Regions from separate parts of the Homo sapiens genome. Here all the other regions are linked to region 3. Evidence: fine-mapped expression QTL. A gene starts in region 3. Each other region holds a variant in brackets. All regions are shown on one strand. Distances are from middle to middle.

Region 1 (2,685 bases), 110 kb after region 3:
GAGACATCTCCTGGTGTACCCTTCCTCTAAAAAGCTAACCCCTTGAGACATTAAGTTTGCCTTCATCCAACCCAGCTTCCATTTCTTGGAGACATATTGCTGGTCAGCTAATCAGATGCTGGTACTGAGGTTAAAAGAGAGAAATAATTTTTGCCCTTGATTCTTTCAGATTTGTGAAGGAAAGAAAATAGTCCAAAAAACAAAAACTACCCAACCCAGTGAGATGGTGCAAGAACCTGCAAAGTAAAATGCACTTGAGGCCCTCACTGGGGCATAGCATAGTTTCTCCTGGAGCATGGTCATTGAGCACTTAAGCGATCAGGATGAGGGTGGGAGGATCTCTCATTTGTTGGATGGCCTGACTTGACACATGAATCAAACACATCTGTATTCCAATGAGCATTTGAATTTCTAGGTTTTTCACCTCGAAGATATTTGTTCACTTATTAGTTTTTTAACTGTAAATTACATTTTATCAGTAGAGCTTGAAAGGTTAAGAAAATATACAAAGGACATGAAAAAGGTAGGTTTCAGGAAAAAATTAAATATTTAGTCATACATTCCATTTGTTAAAAATTCTTATTTGCCTTTTTGTTCCCCAGAGTGAGTGTAGAAAGGTTGTCAAGTGTTTTTTTTTTTTAAGAGAGGGAAGATTCAAACAAAATCCCAGGGCTTAGCTTTGGGAGTGCTACTGGGAAAAAGAATAGGAAAAAATGTTTATTCCATTATGGCTATAGATAATGAATATATTTCTACAAGAAAATATGATAGATCAGTTGGTGAAATGTGTAGATTCATCAAAACAGTTCCGATTTTTGTAGGGTGAATTGTGACAGTGGCTATCTCTGCTCTATATCCTGTTATCTTGATTTTTGAGTATAAATGCTAAATTTTATGAGATGGGACTTGCCACCTCCTAGCAGTGTTCCCAAGTGACTAATTGTTTACTAAATGATTTGTTATAAAATAATTTAATGACATGTTTATTGTCTGAAAGGGATAGTTTTGCTTTTTTTGTTAAGTCATGGAATGTAAGTAAGCACTTTAAAATTTTCTTCTTTTTTTTTTTTT[TC/C]TTTTTTTTTTGAGATGGAGTCTCGCTCTGTCTTCCAGGCTGGAGTGCAGTGGCATGATCTAGGCTCACTGCAAACTCCGCCTCCTGGGCTCAAGCAATTCTCCTGCCTCAGCCTCCTGAGTAGCTGGGATTACAGGTGTGCACCACCATGTCTGGTTAATTTTTGTATTTTTATTAGAGACGGGGTTTCACCATGTTGGTCAGGCTGGTCTGGAACTCCTGACCTCGTGATCCACCCGCCTTGGCCACCCAAAGTGCTGGGATTACAGGCATGAGCCACCATGCCCGGCCTAAAATTTTCTTCCCTTATATAAACTCTGTGTTTGAGCAATTTTGCTGAATTTTTCAAACACTTAGTATTAAAAAGCCAAGTGAATAACTCTGACTGGGAATTGAAGCCTGAGCCCAGTGACTCCAAGCTAAGGCCAATATTGAGACTGCAAAAAAAGGTTATTGAAGGTCCAGTTATTTCTTCCTGAGGAGCCTTTCCTGCAGGTGTCCCAGCCCGCTCACCCCAGCCATGGAAGAATCCTTTCTACTGAGAGAAGCTACAGAGCCCAGGCGAGCTGGGGATCCATAGGCAGATGCAGCTGGGGTTGGGATGGAAGGGCATTGGGAGGGTCTTTCTGAGGATGAAATTTTTATTGACCTGGGGTTGTTTCTAGACTCTGTCAAATAAAAAAAGTCAGATTTAAGTAAAAAGTTTTGAATTTCCAAAGGAGTATTACAAGAGGGGGTAGTACAGACTATAAGATCTTTGAGGACCTCAAAGGTTAGGCATACAAGGGCTGTCTTTCCTAGGGAGAAGCAAACAAGATTAGAAAGGAGATGGGAGGGGAGGGCAGGATGAAGGGTGGCAAAATCAGACTCTAGATCAGAGAATATTTTACCCTGAAGTCAGTATCTTTTTAGCAGGGACATAACATGAGGTTGTATGTTTGCTCAGACTGAGATTGGGTCAAAGTTCAGGAGTCTGGGGAAGGAGAGAAACTTAAGCAAAGTTGGATTAAAAAGTATGTTGTTATGATCACTAAAGACAATTGTTCAGCTGATTCTTTATGGGAAAATGATGAAAATTTGTAGAGTCTGTGTCTGGCTATGTGATAGGTGAAAAAAGCAAGCATCATCTAAGTCACAATGGGAAAGTTGTTTATTTTCATTAAGCTGCTCCTGGAGAACACAATAGATGAGAAATTTTTATTAATCACAGTTATTTACCAAAATTTTCTGTGTGCCCCCATCTTTTCACACCACTTTCCTTTTTTCTATACACCTCTTCCATTTGACTGTTCCTGCATTGTATCTTATAGAACAAACTGGTAAACACAAGTATAGTGTTTTGCCGAGTTCTGTGAGTAGTTTAATCACATTATTCAATTCCAGGAGGGGTTCAATAATTTGAACCATTTAAAGTAGCTGCTCTAGACAGTCACTCAGAAGTACAGATGAGCACCTGGGACTTGTGACGGGCATCTGCAGTAAGGACAGTATTGTGGGACTAAACTCTGGACTTGTGGGATCTGCACTGATTTTGAGTAGTGTGAGATAAAATGTTAAACAACTGGTTGATGTTGGAGAATTGCTGGATATTCAGGAAATTCTACAAATTAGGT
Region 2 (2,685 bases), 200 kb before region 3:
GTCGTGATTGTGCCATGGCACCCCAGCCTGAGTGGCACAGCGAGATTTTGTGGAAAAAAAAGAGCATGGCAGGAATGGGGACAGATGGCAATATTAAATAGAGTGGCCAGGGTTGCCCTAAGTGAAAATTTATCAAAGACTTGAAGTGGGGGAAGCAACTGGCCAAGGTGCTGAGGTGAGAGCATTGTAGGCAGAAACAACAGGATAAAGATGCTAGGAGGGAACTCCATGGTGTGTCTGATCAGTAAAGATTGTGTAATCTCTGGGAGGCTCTTGCTGGGGCTTTGGCTTTTACTCTGACTGAGATCGGAACTGTGGGAGGGTTCTGAGCAGAGAGGCAACATGATCTGTCTCCTGATTTAAAAGCATCCCTTGGCTGCTGAGTTGAGAAAGATTGTGGGAAGATTTGGGTAGAAGCAGGGAGGCCAAGCTGTGGCAACATCCAGATGGGAGATAAGTGTTTTTGACCAGGGTCATGGCAATGGTGAGAGATGGCTGATTCTTTTTTTTTCTTTTTTCTTTTCTTTTTTGAGACGGAGTCTCGCTCTGTTGCCCAGGCTGGAGTGCAGTGGGGAGATCTCAGCTCACTGCAACCTACACCTCCCAGGTTCAAGAGAGTCTTCCGCCTCGGCCTCCTGAGTAGCTGGGACTACAGGCACCTGCTACCACGCCTGGCTAATTTTTGCATTTTTTTGTAGAGACGGGGTTTCACCATATTGACCAGGCTGTTCTCGAACTCCTGACCTTTTGATCCACCCACCTTGGCCTCCCAAAGTGCTGGGATTACAGGCGTGAGCCACCGTGCCTGGCCCTGAGAGATGGTTGATTCTTGTTGAAATACTAAGTAATTAAAAAAAAAAAAACAGTACTGCCTTTCCCAATTATATGAAGTATGGGTTGCTAGATTAAGGAAACCTTAAGTCAGGCTGGTGCAGTGGCTTATGCCTGTAGTGCCAGCACTTTGGGAGGCAGAGATGGGGGGATTGTTTTAAGTCCAGGAGTTTGAGACCACCCTTGGCAACATAGCAAGATCTCCTCTCTACACAAATAAATAATAATAAAATATAATTATCCAGACACGGTGGCATGTGTCTGTAGAATCAGTTACTCTGGTTGTCGAGGTGG[G/A]AAGATCTCTTGAGGGTGGGAGTTTTGAGGCCAGCTTGGGCACATAGCAAGGCTTCTGTCTCCACAAAAAAAAAAAAAAAAAAAAAAGTAGCTGGGAGTTGTGATGCTCACTTGTAGTCCTGGCTATGGTGACTGCATGACTGATCCCTAGAGCTGTAATTTTACTAATTAATTTTTCAGATACTACTCAGCCAGCAACTGAGCCTAACCAGGAACACACCCTCAACCATTCAGTGGTCCTTTTTTTTGTTTTTCTAGTCCTCCTGAAAGTCGATTACTCTCAGAAGGTGACGAAAACTTGCATTACTTTTGTTTTTCTTCCTAGAGACAAGCTCTTGCTCTGTCACCAGGCTGCAGTGCAGTGGCTTGATTATGTCTCAATGCAGCCTGAAACCCCTGGGCTGAAACAATCCTCCAACCTCAGCCTCCCAAGTAGCTGGGACTACAGACGTTTGCCCCCGTGCCTAGCTAACTTCTTTATTTTTTATTGTTGAGATGGGATCTTGCTATGTTGCCCAGGATGGTGTCAAACTCCTGGCCTCAAGTGATCTCTCTGTCTCAGCTTCCCAAAGTGCTGGAATTATGCACAGGCCTGAGCCACCTGTGCTCAACCCCCATTTTCTTTTTTTTTTTTTTTTGAGATGGAGTCTAGCTCAGTTGTCCAGGCTGGAGTACAGTGGTGCCATCTCGGCTCACTGCAACCTCCACCTCCCTGTTTCAAGCAATTCCCCTGCCTCAGCCTCCCGAGTAGCTGGGATTACAGGCGCATGCCACCATACCTGGCTAATTTTTGCTCTATTTTTAGTAGAGATGTGGTTTCACCATGTTGGCCAGACTGGTCTTGAACTCCTGACCTCAGGCAGTTGGCCCACCTTGGCCGCCCAAAGTGCCGGGATTACAGGTGTGAGCCACTGCATCTGGCCCTTTTTATAATAATAATTTAATTGAAATATGATTAACATCTCACACAATTCATTTATCAAAGTGTGCAATTCAGGCTGGGTGTATTGGCTAATTCCTATAACGCTAAGACTTTGGGAGGCTGAGGTAGGTGGATTGCTTGAGTTCAGGAGTTCGAGACTAGCCTGGGCAACATGGCAAAACAGCATCTCTAGAAAAAATACAAAAATTAGCTGGATATGGTGGCTCATGCCTGTAGTCTTAGCTACTTGAGGACATGATGCTGGAAGATCACTTAAGCCCAGAAGGCATATAGGTTGCAGTGAGACCAGATGGCGGTACTGCACTAGTGTGGGTGACAGAAGGAGACCATGTCGAGAAAGAGAGAGAGTGAGAGAGGAAAGAAGTAAAGAGAGACGGAGAGAGAGAGAAAGGAAAGAAAGAGAGAAATTCAGTAGTTTTTAGAATATTCATGAAGCTGTGCATCCATCACCACAGTCACTTTTAGAAGCGATTACCCATTTATGAGTTACCCACTTAAGAGTGAGAAACCCTCACCTCTTAGCTGCTACCTCCTACTTCCCCCACGTTCCTGTGTCTTCATAGGCAACCACTGATTTATTTTCTTTTATTGTAGTTTTGCCTAATCTGGACCTTTAA
Region 3 (2,685 bases):
AAGACCAGAGTAGGAAACAACAACCTACAATAGAAATGAACCAATAAAGGACTAATCTCTAAAGTGTCTTTAAAAATGCTTCACATCAATGTAGGAAAAACACAAATGATCCAAGACAAAAAGAACACTATGAAGGAAAAAAAAGGGGGGTGCATGGGCGAATAAATATTTGCTAAGCCGTACTATGAAGAGGGTTATTTCCAGTTCCAGATGAGAGATACCCACAGGCAGCCCGGGGGGTGGGACCCCAGGGGACAGGACCCCCAGAAGGTGACAGAGATCCTGGCAGTGGGGGACCTGGGGCAGAAGGTGACCCCATCCTCTTCCCGGGCTGCCGCTCAAGGCTCCTGCCGCTCCCGGGCTCCAGCGCCCTCTCACCGGGTCCTGATCAGGGCTCCCTTTCTCACCCCGGGTCAGGCAGAAGGCCCCGGACCCCAGTCCCAAAAGAAACGGAGGCTGCAGGGCTTCCACGCAGGAGAGAAGGGGAGGGCTCCTCTCCGACCCGGGCTCCTTCAGCGCCCACCCCAGCGGACTCTGAGAGGGCGAGGAGGAGGTCGGGGGCTAGGTTCAAGCCGCACTGGGCCCCGGATTCAAGAAAGAAACGGGCTCCTGAGACGCCTGTGCATCAGAGGGGTCCTGGCTCGGCCTGGGATGGGGCTCGGGGAGAGTCAGACGATCTGCCAGGCTCCCAGCCTGAGGCCGCCCTCCCCGGCGCGCAACCCCCGCCCCCACCGCTGGGGCCCTCCTGCCTTTCCCGGCACGTCGCTCCCCGAGAGGCCGAGACTCCTGCCTGTCCTTCCTCTGCCGCCGGTATCCCAGACTCCCGGACTCACGCGCGGCTGGGTTGCCGTCTCCTCCTTTCAGGGCTGGACGCCACAGGTTCCAGGCTTCTTGGGTTCTGGGAGGAGGCGCAGCGGAAGGCGAGGTCGCTGCATGAGGCAGCTCCAAAGTCGCCTCGCCCTCGCGCTGTTGCTGCCTCACTGCCTCCAGCCTCCAGCATCCGGAGAGAGTGCAGGCAGGCGGCACCCAGTTCTCTTCCTTCTCCTCCTGCCCACGGCGGAGCAGCCTCCAGCATCCAGGGAGAGTGCAGGCACGTGGTGCCTGGCCCTCTTCTTTCTCCTCCTGCCCAGGGCGGAGCCATACAGACCACGCTGCCTGGAGCAGGGTGAAATGCGGAAAGCCCACGGAGCAACTATTTATAATGACTTATTTAACTAGATATCCTGTAAGGCATGTTCGGATTGGATGAGAGCCACTGTGCAAAACAACTCTGATTGGATAATATGACCCAATCAGGGCTGGCTGAAATGTTCCTTCTCGTCCTATCAGACTCAGGGTATAGATGCTGGGGTGGGGCAGGAGCCAGCGCCCCCACCGGAATTTGTGGCCACTTCGCCTTTGGCTTTGCCTCCTGCCATGCCCCGCAGGCCCGGAGAATGTGGCCCCAGACTGAAATGAGAAGAAGGTGGCCCCGCCGAGGGTGAGTCTGGGGAGGCTGGAGTGGGGGCTGTGAGGGGGTGCCCGGGCAGGAGTCTCGGCCTCCGCTGGGAGCAGCATATTCAGTGTGTAATGTGAATAACAGGCAAAATAGGTCTTAATTTTTTGTATTATTAGTGACAAAGACTTCCGGTCAACCGCAGGCCGTTAGGAGTTATGCTTTGGGGGAGTTGAGAGTTAAACTTGGATTTTTGACTGTGGGGGGTTAGCATCCATATCCCCCACATTGTTCAAGGGTCAGGTGTATTTTAGAGCACTGGCATGAATCACTTTGGGTCCCACTTGTTGAAAATAGGCATTGACATTTGGAGGCGCCTCCTTGTAGCGAGCAGGTACTACTGATCTCTCTCTTCCACGTACTGACCTTTCCCCAGCTTCTGTGGAACCCTGTTTCCTGGAGTTTACTTACATTCTTTAGTCAATTCTTCTCTAATTCTTCTGAAAGTGGATTTGGAGCAAGGGAAGAGAAACCTGCAGTCTTGGCTGTGTCCAGGTTTTGGTTCTGATTCTTGTGTGCGGTCCACATTCAGATTGGGGTCCTTAATGAAATCCATGGCTTCATCTCTCCTTGCATGCCAGCATCACCCAATCGTGTATAGTTAAACTCGAACTCCCTTTGCACCACAGACTCCCATCTCCAGGTGTTTAACAGGAATTGGATACTGAGCATGTGATATTTTTACCTAAACCTAAATACATCTTTTTTCCTTGTTTCCCTGTGTGCTTGTCCCCTGCCCAACCATCAGCACCACAAATCTAGACGCCTAAAATTCATCCACCTCCTTTGTAATGGCACCCAACCACCACATACAATCCTTTTAAATATCTCAGTTCTGTATTTGGAAAATTACACATTTTAACTGTCTTTTCACTTCATTGCCTTTCCATTACTCTAGGCCCTCATGGTTTCTTCACTGTTAGACTAATGAGCTATGAGTGTTTACCCTCCTAATCCTGCATACTCCTTAAAACCTCAGGCAGAAAATGGAAATTAAACTCGTGGGCATTCAAGGACACCCCCACGATTTTCAGGGTAAAGTTTTTATGGCTTAGCTTAATGCCCAACGACTTTCACATTCCTCTGTTGATAATTTCAATCTCTTGAAATTCTCTCAAACAAAAATAACTAACACTTGTTAACAACTTCGTGTTTCCAGGAAATACTTTAAGCAATTAAAGTCATAATTA
Region 4 (2,685 bases), 290 kb after region 3:
GGTAGTGCAGCCTGTGCACAAACCTCCTGCTGCTTTTCCAGAGGACTGGATTTCTGGGAAATGGCTACTGAACAGGCTGCCAGGATCCATATATCCAGATTCAGAGAGATACATCTCTGGATTCAAATGCGCTTTTTCTTTGTGCATAATTTTAGCAGTCATTGTTACTACGCCTTGGGGATTCTAGTCATTATACTTCAGCTGACTCTCTATGGCCCTTTCTCCCCTTCACTGCTCTATCTGAACCTGGGGAAGCAGCTCAGGCTGCAAATGAGGCAGACCTCATGGCCTGGAATTAGCATCCCCTAGGACGGCTGTCAATCAGTGATGACAAGGGAGGTGTACACATCCCCCAGCTCCCTCACCTCTCAGGTGGAATAACAGAGGCATTTTTCCTGTGTTTCTATGTGGGCTTGAGCTCTCGTCATCCTCAGAGGTGGCTCCTTCTGAGGCACCTTTCACTTTCCCTTTCCCTCCTCCCCTCCCTTGCTCACTTGCTTGTTTCCCGCACTTTGTAAATATACTGTCTACATGCGAATCTTTGGCATCCTTCTCACTGAGGGGACCCAACCTAATGCATTGGAAAAATCCTTATTCTTGGAGGGCATCGTTGGTTTGAATTATTGCCACTTCTCATGTTTTAATGCCTAGGGAAATTCCAAAAATTTAGGAAATATTTAAATTCCCTTTGCCAATCTTTCTTAGATTTGATTTTAGCAGAGATTCATTTTCTCTAGGTCACAAAATCACAGAAGCCTTCCACAAATGGCTACACAACATAGAGTCCACATAGAGCAGAGACTCAGAATCTCCCAGGATTTGACATCCACACATCAGACAGTCCTAGAGTCTCAGGTTTTTTCTAGGTCGATCGCCTCATAAATCTGCCTTGTGATATTTTTATTCTACCTTAGGGGAAGACCATTGTGTGGATGATGAGAGTTGTTTGTGGAATGAATAATACACCCACTAAAGACATCATTGTCCTAATATCTGGAATCTATGATCGTTACTTATGAATATGTCAAAAATAACT[C/T]GGCAGACATGGTTGAGAATTTTGGGGTCAGGAGAGTATCCTGAATTATCTGGGTGAGACCATCATAATCACAAGGGTCCTTACAATAGGGAGGGAGGAAGGTAACAGCCAGAGAGGACCTGGGACAATGGACAGGGAAACTGGAGTGGTGGAGGAACGGGCCAGGCTGCTAGGAATGTGGGAACATCAGAAAGACGGAATGCTCAATATTGGATTCTCTCTCTTGAAGCCTAGACTGAATAGAGCCCTATTACTCCTTGATTTTACTTCATTGAGACTTCTGACCTCCAGAAATGTAAGATAATACACTTGTGTTATGTGGAGCAGTAAGGTTGTGGTAATTTGTTACAGCAGCAACAGGAAACCAATGCAAGGGGAAGGGGTGTGTTTTACTTCCCTAGTGTATCACTGTCTTCTGTTCTCCCAAATAGTTCCGTGTTTTTGTGTTTGCTGTCAATCTCAACAAGAGACAGAAAATATTTTTCTATGAGGAGAGCTAGCACCACAATTCTTCTTATGTAGAGTGTCTTGAGTAATTCTCTGGGTTAGGTCTTGTACAATCTTAGTATCTGAGAGCCTGGAGGTCATCCCTCACAGCACATGAGAAGAGGAAGGGGATGCGGGTTTGCTGTTTTAACATTTGTGAGGCAAATTAGATGTACAAGACTCATTCTTTTTTTTATTATTATTATTGTTCTTTAAGTTCTAGGGTACATGTGCACAACGTGCAGGTTTGTTACATATGTATACATGTGCCATGTTGGTGTGCTGCACCCATTAACTCGTCATTTACATAAGGTATACCTCCTAATGCTATCCCTCCCCCCTCCCCCCACCCCACGACAGGCCCTGGTGTGTGATGTTCCCCTTCCTGTGTCCATATGTTCTCATTGTTCAATTCCCACCTGTGAGTGAGAACATGCAGTGATTGGTTTTTTTGTCCTTGCGATAGTTTGCTGAGAATGATGGTTTCCAGCTTCATCCATGCCCCTACAAAGGACATGAACTCATCCATTTTTATGGCTGCAAGCGAGGACTGAGTCAGAGAGATGGGGATGGCAGAGGAGAGAAAATGTGATCAGGGCCGTGTAAGATGTGACCCTGCTGCCATATCTGAAAGAAAGGCTGTTGGTGTTTGTAAAGGCTTTGGGCAAATTGTGCTTTGTAGACAAAACTGTAGAAGGGTCTGGGTTTAAGCTTAGTGTCAGCGTGATGAGGACTAGAGGTCGCAGTGAGCTTGTGTTAAGAAATCCAACCTGCACTTCTGGCTTTGTCTCTTTTCTGGTTTTATAGGTGGTGGGTTCCTCTATGGAATGAACGTGGCTCTGTGGAAGGAACATAGTTAAGGTCAGACAGACCTAGATTCCAAGTTCAGCTTCAACAACTGCTGACCAAGTGACTTTTATGCAAATCAGCCATGTGCTGTCATGAACAGTTTCCTCATGTGTGAAATGGAGCACTGGGGATGTGAAGGGGTGTCCTGAGGGTTCCGCCAGCTGATGCACCATGAAGTGTACATACATGTATAGACAGACACACACACATACATGAGAAGAGTATCTAGTGCCCCTTTTATGCATTCTGGAGTAACTCAGAATGTTATGTGAGATATTAACAGTCATATGTCATTTTCAACTAAAATTATCGAT

Evidence for each region. PIP is the estimated chance that this variant, and not a neighbour inherited with it, causes the effect.
Region 1: its variant is fine-mapped to the expression of LINC00839 in prefrontal cortex (CommonMind, PIP 0.95).
Region 2: its variant is fine-mapped to the expression of LINC00839 in fibroblasts (GTEx, PIP above 0.99). The same link has a PIP of 0.9 or more in subcutaneous fat and uterus.
Region 4: its variant is fine-mapped to the expression of LINC00839 in esophagus muscle (GTEx, PIP above 0.99). The same link has a PIP of 0.9 or more in gastroesophageal junction and prostate.

What each region holds. Positions count from the first base shown.
Region 1 is chr10:42,362,507-42,365,191 of GRCh38, reverse strand. It overlaps the pseudogene LOC441666. Among named protein-coding and RNA genes, the nearest start is that of LINC00839, 110 kb to the left of the region's middle. The variant TC/C (reference allele first, on the strand shown) is at 1,072.
Region 2 is chr10:42,678,048-42,680,732 of GRCh38, reverse strand. The region is part of intron 4 of LINC01518 (long intergenic non-protein coding RNA 1518); the gene reads left to right. Among named protein-coding and RNA genes, the nearest start is that of LINC01518, 12 kb to the left of the region's middle. The variant G/A (reference allele first, on the strand shown) is at 1,126.
Region 3 is chr10:42,474,029-42,476,713 of GRCh38, reverse strand. It overlaps LINC00839 (long intergenic non-protein coding RNA 839), which reads right to left and starts at 1,223. Exons shown (of 5, transcript NR_026827.1): 1 at 834-1,223.
Region 4 is chr10:42,181,240-42,183,924 of GRCh38, reverse strand. No RefSeq gene overlaps it. Among named protein-coding and RNA genes, the nearest start is that of LINC00839, 290 kb to the left of the region's middle. The variant C/T (reference allele first, on the strand shown) is at 1,037.